2 linked regions of the Homo sapiens genome follow. The protein of the gene in region 1 purifies or fractionates together with the protein of each later gene. This does not show direct contact. Each region holds a gene or a part of one and is shown on either strand. Other genes may lie near its edges.

Region 1 (4,674 bases):
AAGAACCCCCACTTTCTTTGACAGAATTCGCAGGATCGTTCAGGCACTAGACAGTATTTTTTAAATAGGGGACTAATTTGCTGGGGTCTACAGAAATGTGAGATTTATTTTTTTCCTTTCCTGACTTATTTTAAAAATCTGGCCACGAATTTCCTGATTGTTGAGGGAACAGAAGATCCAAAATCTCTGGAGAGGGAGTGGAGAGGAGGCTAGAATCCCTCCCCAGCATTGTAAAGTTTTCCTTGCCTCTTTGGTATATTGAGCTCAAACCTATAGACATTTCCACTGCCAACTCCCCCATATGTGGTCGAGAAAGAGAGTTAGTTATTGGTGCCCCAGACACAGAAAGAAGGGCGTGGGGATGAGAAATGGGAGAGGAAGACCTGTTCAAGACCTGTTCAGGGGCTTCTGGAGTCCAGACCCAGGCTGGGGACCCCTTGGTCTTGTCTGGCTAAGGATGGGAAGGGAGAATTCATTCCCCTCTTGTTCCGTCTCCAGTTGAAGAGAGAAAGGCTCCTGTAAATCCCACCGCTCTCCTTGCGGACAAGACCAGTCCCAGGTTTCCCAAAACCACACCAAGAGCTTTGGATCCTGCCTTGTGCTGAGAAATCAGGATTCCGGTCTAGGGAGTCCAGCATTTGAGTCTGTTCTCCCTGTAAGCAGAGCTCAGTGGGAGAGCGTTCTCCCTTCTGATACCTACAGAGGTCTTTGGGGGTGGGGGGCCCAGGGCAGCCACAGATGTCTCCCGACAGTGCCCAGCTCCCCGACCAGCTCCACGTGCCAAGCTCAGGGATGTTTTCCTTGGAAAGCATAGACCCAAAGACCTCCTAAGGGTGGGCCTGAAATTCCTCTGCATACGGAATTGGAAGAAGAGGTAGGTGGTTTAAAAAAAAATACTGAGTGATATTAGAGAGTGTAGCAAATAACATTCTTGTGAATATTATGAAATTACTTAGTATAACACAACTCAATACCAGGGTATGACCTACACTAGGCACCCTGACTTCTGATTGCCAGAATTAAGGATGGTGCAATTTTAGTACATGGTATTATGCATCACCTACCCTGTATTGGCTGTAATATTTTTATATAATATGATTTCTTTTATTAACTACCTAATATGAAATATACAATAATAGATTTCTAGAAAGACAATTCACATGTTCATAATACAGCAATGTATTTTAGAGAGATGGCCCTTTAATTCTCTATCTCACCAAAACACAAAGCTTCTTAGGAGATTGGGGTCCAGCAGGAATTCCTGGGGCAGGGAAGCCAATGGGCTATGCCAAGGGGCTAAGGGGTAAGGGATCAGGTGCCCACCAAACCCACTGTGGATTGGGGGCACAGGCCCAGAGCAATGTGCAATGGGTTTAGTGTGAAGAGGTAGAAGAGAAGGAGCTGTTCTATGTATGAATGTGGTGTGGAGTAGGGGTGAAGGATTGGAGAGAAGCTGAGAAATATCTTTGAGCAAAATAAACATCTCAAAGATTCCTAGGACACAAAACAAAACAAAACAAAACAAAACAAAACTCCACTAAAAATAAATACTTTTTTGATCACAGCCTCCTAGAGAAAAATATCTTTGAAATAAAAAAAGTATATCCCAATTGAGATTTAATACACTTGCAAATTATGGCATGGAAATGGATATAAAACCTAGCATGCCTCAGCAGCTATGTGCTCCCACAATCCCCGTGTGGAAATAGAATTGGGCTGATGTATCTCAGTGAGTGCAGAGGTACAGACAAGAGGCAGACGAATAAGAAATTATCTTCAGACACTCTCCATCTTTCTACCCACTCAGAGATCTTTTAGAAGTAGTGAGATTTCAAGATAACTCTGTCTGTGCAATTGTGGTTTGTTCGGCAACATGTAGGCATAAACACTGCTGTCTCTCTACAGTGCCTCTGGCTCTGAGAATCCTCATCTGTGGTAGTCTGGGCTGGTGTGGGAGATGGAGGCAATTGTTCAGCAAGATCCAGATAATTAGGGCCAAGATGTGTCGTGGCTTCTTCCTTCTCCCAATTATACAGACTCTTGCTTTATTGCTCTGGTTTTTTTTTTTTTCTCCCTACGGTGAGTGTAGACTTTTTTTTTTTTTTTTTTTTTTTTTTTTTTTTTTTTTGAGAGAGAGAGAGAAGCAGAAATTCCAGGAGAGAATCAGAAAGGGAGAAAAAGAGAGATGGGGTTTAGGAGAGAGAAAGAGGGAGAAAGAAACAGTGGGCTATTTGGACCACACTAGAAGTCTTTACTGACAAGCCTTTGGATTTGGGTTGGGAAGAGTAGCAAGCTGGATTTCTAGCTGGACAAGGCACTCTTCAGAGCCCAGAGCTTGCCTGTGGGGGGGCGGGTGGTCAAGGGTGGGTGGGCTGTGGGGAGCTGAACAGAGGGGCCCCGAAGCCCAAAAAGAAAGCCATGGCTGAGCATTGAGATGATTTTTATTTACTCCTCAAAGGTGTCTATTAGGTTTCCAGGCATGAAGTCATTCGTGTATGTGATCTGGAGGGAGACTAGGGAAGGGGTGATTGTAAGATTAATAACTAAGCCCCCACTCACTTTAGGCAGTGTACGCACATCTCCAGGTCCAAGCTACCAGATGTTTCTTCATCTCTACATACCATTTCCTTTCCAGATAAGGCAGCAGACAAAGAAAGGGGGCTTCTTTGAGAAGGCAAGACTGGAGTTATTTCCCCAGGAGGCCAAACCAACCTGCAGTTGGTCTGATCCAGGACAAATTGGCTAAATCAATCCTTGGCATCCTATAGAGAAAAATAACCAGTTTAAACCAGTTGTCTACTTTTTAAACTGATTTTTTTTAGGGTTGATTAAATCTCATTGGAAATTTAGAGCTAGAATTTAGGAAACCAAAATTGGATAGGTAATTGTGAGAGTTTAAAGAGAGTAAAGTAAAAAATTAGGGACAATTATCTGGCTAATTCAGAAACAAAAACCCACCTTTACCCTACTGTATTCTTCTCCAGGGAAAAGGAGGTGTTTTAAAGCTGGATTGTATTAGCTGGCCTATTTCCATTTTAAAACTTACTGTATCATTTTAAGAGTCAGAAAGTCTGGCTTTAAAATCTGGTTCTGCCACTTAAGTTATTTTACCCACTCTGAGCCTCAGATTCCTAATCTTGTAAAATGAGTTTAACAAAATAATCCTGAAAAAATGTTCTGAGGATTAAAAACAACAATAACAACAACAAAAGCAACAAACTCATGGTATCACTACATATCCTCTTCATTCTATTCTTGTCAACAAATCGTCAATTTCCCAAATCATGGTTACCTCTGTAAGAGTAAAACAAATTTGAGAACTGAGAGATTTAAAGATAATGGTCGTGTTCAAAAACAAATCCTTTTTAACCTAAAGGATCCATACTGTTTAAATAAAGTTATTTTGTTTTTTAGATTTTTTTAAATCATAGTTTATTCTCACAGAGGCAGAGAAAAATGCCAGGTCCAACAGTTTTCCTGAGAAATTGTCACCAGAAGACAGTCAAATGAGGCCATTGGACCCCGTCTCCCATTTTCTTCCTGAGCATTTTGTTTTCCCCTGTGTCTCACTGTGACCACTACTCTTCCCATTGTGTATAGAGTCCATGAGAGAAAGCAGACCCAATGGGGATGGGTACAGGGAAAGTGTTCTGTGAGGGTGGGATGGGAACAAACATTTCAGAAAGAACTTTGTGTCTTCCCTCTGGGCTGTGTCTATAGTTTCAAAATGTGGTAGGAATGAAGGGGAAACCCCAAATATTCAGCCCTCCTCATTAGCTTTCACCTAAAGTCTAATAATTACATGGAAAAAATTGAGGGCTGAGCTATCCAGATAATCTCCCTAGTTCCCCCACTTCCCCTTGAAAGTGTTGCGTGACCTTTATTGACAGGGATGAGGGTGGAGTAGAAAATGGAGTTAGAAGTGATATATATTGGTTTTAGTTTCTGTGAAATTCTCAGAGCCTAAAGAAACAGAACTGGTAATATTGGTTTGGATGACAGGCATCTAGGGTTTAGGGTTATGGTTGGTGCAAGGGATGTAGACAGTTTCCTTCAGCTGTGAAGGAATGGAGAGGGAAGGCGGTTGGAACAGAATTTGTTCTGTTTTGGTGGGACTGCAGTGTGGACCCCCTACTTCCAGAGACACCTGATTCCCTATATCTCAGGTTCAGGACCCCCCACCTTGGGTGTTAGGTGGTTCATAACATTGGACCCCAATTCCTAGAGTGTGGACCTCCAAGCAGGCTGGCTTCACCTGGACACTTATCTTCTATCTGTGCCTCACATCCCTAACGTAGGGCCAGTGTCCAAAGGCGTGAAGACTCATCTGGTGGTCTGGGCCCACTGAAGCTGACCCCCTGCCTGCCATGCCCTCCCTGAAATATACAACAGAATGTCTTCCTCTGGCAACGGGGCAGAATATAAACTAATAAGGACCCAAGCGATCTAACTGCAGGAAGGAGGGATTTTTCTGAATATCTGAAATTCTGCAAGCATGGCAGGCCAGGCTGGAATTTGGAGGGTCCCTTCTAAATATACAAGGATCCTAATATTGAGTGCTGTGAAGAGCCATATTGGGGCCTGAAACAAAAGAAAATCAGTAATACCGAACCCATGTTTATTTTTTTAATTGATATTTTGTTCATCATGGATGTTTTTGTATTCGTTTTGCTT
Region 2 (4,533 bases), on another chromosome or scaffold:
CAGGGGTTAGCCAGGTAGAAAGATGCTAATGTCACCAGCAAATGTTTACTGAGAGGCCACAACAAGCAAGACCCTGTGCATTTTGTGCACAATCTCACTGAAGCCTCACAGTGCGTGAGGTAGGTAGAATGACTGCTCTTTTCATTGCACAAATGAGGACAACTGAGGTATAGAGGGGTCAACTGACCTGCCCAAAGTCACACAGTTGAGATGCAGCAGAGCTGGGACTTGAACCCAGGTCAGTCTCAGCCCGGTATCTCAGGCTCTTGATGATGACATTTTGGTATCTCTCACAAAATGTCAGAAAGAGAAGAGAAACCAGCCTGGCGTGGTGGCTCACACCTGTAATCCCAGCACTTCAGGAGGTTGAGGCGGGCAGATCACTTGAGGTCAGGAGTTCGAGACCAGCCTGGCCAACATGGTGAAATCCCATCTCTACTAAAAATACAAAAATTAGCAGAGTGTGGTGGTGCGCGCCTGTAATCCGAGCTATTCAGGGGGCTGGGCCAGGAGAACTGCTTGAACCCGGGAGGCAGATGTTGCAGTGAGCCGAGATTACGCCATTATACTCCTGGGTGACAGAGCAAGACTCCATTTCAAAAAAAAAATAAAAAGAAAGAGGAGAGAAGAGAAACCAAGTCTTGGAAGGCAGGGAGAAGACGCAGAAGACAAGGAATTTGGAGGAAGAAGAGGCTGAGGGGTTGGGAGGGTGGGAAGAAAATGACCAACACTCAGGAGATGGGACAGGAGGCCAAAGTCGGGGTGGGGAGGCAGCACTGGCCAATAGAACTTTCCAGGGATGGAAATGTTCTATTGGATGGAAATCTGTGCCATCCAATACGGTACCCAGTGCCCACATGTGGCTACTGACCACAGACCACGTGGCCACTGAGCACAAGTGTGGCTCATGGACCTGAGAAACAGAATCTTTAATTTTATTTAATTTTAATTTAAATAGCTGCATGAGGCTAGTGGCTACAGTATCAGTCACAGCCCTAGTAGCCCAAGAGATAGTGGTGAAGAGACTTAGATGTCAGAGGTCAGACCAGGCGCAGTCGCTCACGCCTGTATTCCCACCACTTTGGGAGGCCAAGGCAGGAAGATCGCTTGAGCCCAGGAGTTTGAGACCAGCCTGGGCAACACAGCAAGACCCCAGCTCTATTTTTTTTTGAGACAGAGTTTTGCTCTTGTTGCCCAGGCCGGACTGCAATGGCGTGATCTTGGCTCACCGCAACCTCCGCCTCCTGCATTCAAGCGATTCTCCTGCCTCAGCCTTCCAAGTAGCTAGGATTATTACAGGCTGTGCCACCACACCCAGCTAATTTTGTATTTTTTTAGTAGAGACGGGGTTTCACTGTGTTGGTCAGGCTGGTCTCGAACTCCTGACCTCAAATGATCCACCCACCTCGGTCTCCCAAAGTGCTGGGATTACAGGCATGAGCCACTATGCCTGGCCTCCTTTTCTTATTAATTCTTTGTTTATATGTTTATTGTCTGTCTCCTCCCCCGCCCACCAAATATATGAAGCTCCGTGAAGGCAGGAATTTCACCTGTCTTACTGCTGTGCCCCCAAACCAAGCACAGTATCAGGCACTTAGTAGGCACTCAACAAATACTGGACTGGCCTCCTCTAGATTCCTGGAACCCAGAAAGATCTCCTACCTGAGGACTTTGTCGTGTGCTATTGTGTCTGCCTAATATATTCCCACTCCCATTCTTTTTTTTTTTCCTTTGAGATAGAGTCTCGCTCTGTTGCCCAGGCTGGAGTGCAGTGGCACAATCTCAGCTCCCTGCAACCTCTGCTTCCCAGGTTCAAGCGATTCTCCTGCCTCAGGCTCCGGAGTAGCTGGGATTACAGGCGCACATCACCATGCCTGGCTATTTTTTGCATTTTAGGTAGAGATGGGGTTTTACTATGCTGGACAGGCTGGTCTCGAACTCCTGACCTCAAGTGATCTGCCCTCCTTGGCCTCCCAAAGTGCTGGGATTACAGATGCGGGCCACCATGCCGGGCCTCCCACTCCCATTCTTCACCTGGCTAAGTCCTACCCGGCCTTCAATGTTATCTTCTCAGAGAAACCCCTAGAACTTTCTCCTCCACCCCAGAACCTGCTGTGGTTCTTCACAGCACCTCACACATTCTTCGATTTTCTGTTTATGCAGGTGATGATTTGATGAACGCTCATTTCCCCCATTTGACTAACAGCTCCATGAAAGCGGAAACCCCAGCGTCAGGGCAGTGCCTGCCCAGCCCCCTACCTTCCAGCTAAGCAACCCCCCTGCAAAACCCTCAGCCCCCAGGTACTTGATCTGATGCTTCCCGTATCCCCATTCAGCAGCAGCTCCCCAGTGACCTTCCTTCTCTTCCAGTCTAGATCCCACACAGCCTGTCACTGCACTCTTTTTTTTTTTTTTGAGCTGGAGTCTCGCTCTATTGCCCAGGCTGGAGTACAGTGGCACAATCTTGGCTCAATGCAACCTCTGCCTCCTGGGTTCAAGTGATTCTCCTGCCTCACCCTCCTGAGTAGCTGGGACTACAGGTGCCTGCCACCACGCCCAGCTAATTGTTTTTTGTTTTTTTTTTTTTGGTGTTTTTAGTAGAGACGGGGTTTCACCATGTTGGCCAGAATGGTCTCGATCTCCTGACCTCGTGATCCACCCGCCTCAGCCTCCCAAAGTGCTGGGATTACAGGCGTGAGCCACCACACTCGGCCCTCACTACACTCTTTCTCTGACAATACCGTCAACACTCCTGCCTCACCGTCCTGCAGCCACACTACCCAACCAATGCCTAGCCTGGATCCATCAGTTCCTCTCTGGGCTGAGAAATACACCCCTAGCCCGCCACGGTGGCTCACGCCTGTAATCCCAGCACTTTGGGAGGTCCAGGCAGGGGGATCACTTGAGCCCAGGAGTTCAAGACCAACCTGGGCAACATAGCAAGACCCCCGTCTCTACAAAAATCAAAAAATTAGCCAGGTGTGGTGGCACATGCCTGTAGTCTCAGCTACTCAGGAGGCTGAGGCAAGAAGATTGCTTGAACCCAGGAGGCTGAGGCTGCAGTGAGCCATGATTGTGCCACCGCACCCCAGCTTAGGCAACAGAAGAATATCCTGTATAAAAAAAGAAAAAAAAAAAAAAGCACTTCCCATCATCTTCTGGGGCCCATTTCTATTCTTGTAGGCTACAAACATATCCCGTCACCTCAAGGCTCTCTCAGAACTGAAAAGGACACTCCCACTTACCTCTGGGAAACATTTTCTTCCTTCTGAACCTAAGAGAAGATTAATTATAACCTCTGTTCTACCCTCAGGTCCAAGAACCACCTAATAGAGGCTGGGCACGGTGGCTCACGCCTGTAATCCTAGCATTTGGGGAGGCTGAGGCGGGTGGATCACGAGGTCAGGAGTTCAAGACCAGCCTGGCCAACGTGGTGAAAACCCATCTCTACTAAAAATACAAAAATTAGCCGTGCATAGAGGCAGGCGCCTATAGTCCCAGCTACTCGGGAGGCTGAGGCAGGAGAACTGCTTGAACTCAGGAAGCGGAGGTTGCAGTGAGCCGAGATCGCACCACTGTACTCCATCCAGCCTGGGCAACGGAGCAAGACTCCATGTCAATAAATACATACATACATGCATACATACATACATACATACATACATAAATGGGGGGACACAGGAGCTAGAAGGTGGAGTGAGAAAGGTCTCTGTGGGAGTGTGAGGGTGGGGGGCAGGTGCTGAGCCAGGACACATAGTACTCACTCTGGAACATTCCAGGGGGGCCCAGATCCTCCAGACCAAAACTGGAAAAGCTCAGAGGCCTGGATAGGACACAAAGAAAAATGGTTGGTCAGTCCCCTGTGGACAGCTGCAGCCCCATCCATCCCCCTTTGCCCCCACGTCCCACAATCCCCAACCTGGACCACCTGAGGACCAGTGGGACCCAGTTTGGCCTGCAGAGAAGGCGCGGAGATGAGCTGGGCAGAGGACATGGTTGCCATTGTCTGGAAAGCCTTGTCCTTGGAAACCTGGTCCTGGAGGAGGAGGCGGAAGTTCATGTGAGAGGGGCATCTCAGTCAACATGGCAAGAGGGGGATGGTGCCAGGGTGGGGTGAAGACGGGGAGGTGCAGAGGTGGGGAGTCAAGGCAAAGGGTTAGTGGCCGGGCATGGTGGCTCACGCCTGTAATCCCAGCACTCTGGGAGCCGGAGGCGGGCAGATCACTTGAGGTCAGGAGTTCAGTATCAGCCTGGCCAATATGGTGAAACCCTGTCTCTACTAAAAATACAAAAACTAGCCAGGTGTGGTGGTGCACACGCATAATCCCAGCTACTAGGGAAGCTAGGGCACAACAATCACTGGAACCCAGGAGGCAGAGGTTGCAGTGAGTGGAGATCGTGCCCCTGCATCCAGCTTAGGCGACAGAGCAAGACCCTGTCTCCAAAAAGAAAAAAAAAGGCAAAGGCTTGGGTTGGGGGAGGGTTGAACCTCTCCCCACAGCCCTCTGCCCCTCCTCAGGGACAGGGCACTAG

What was found. The genes of interacting proteins can lie anywhere in the genome.
Region 2: the proteins of HOXC13 (region 1) and TEAD2 purify together in Homo sapiens (tandem affinity purification; one large-scale study listed by IntAct). This does not show direct contact.

What each region holds. Positions count from the first base shown.
Region 1 is NC_000012.12:53,940,064-53,944,737, forward strand, and holds part of HOXC13 (homeobox protein Hox-C13), read left to right. Parts: intron 1-4,674. UniProt on the Homo sapiens protein: Transcription factor which plays a role in hair follicle differentiation. Regulates FOXQ1 expression and that of other hair-specific genes.
Region 2 is NC_000019.10:49,351,384-49,355,916, forward strand, and holds part of TEAD2 (transcriptional enhancer factor TEF-4), read right to left. Parts: intron 4,037-4,533; coding exon 3,929-4,036; coding exon of another isoform or gene 3,920-3,928; intron 3,824-3,919; coding exon 3,765-3,823; intron 1-3,764. UniProt on the Homo sapiens protein: Transcription factor which plays a key role in the Hippo signaling pathway, a pathway involved in organ size control and tumor suppression by restricting proliferation and promoting apoptosis.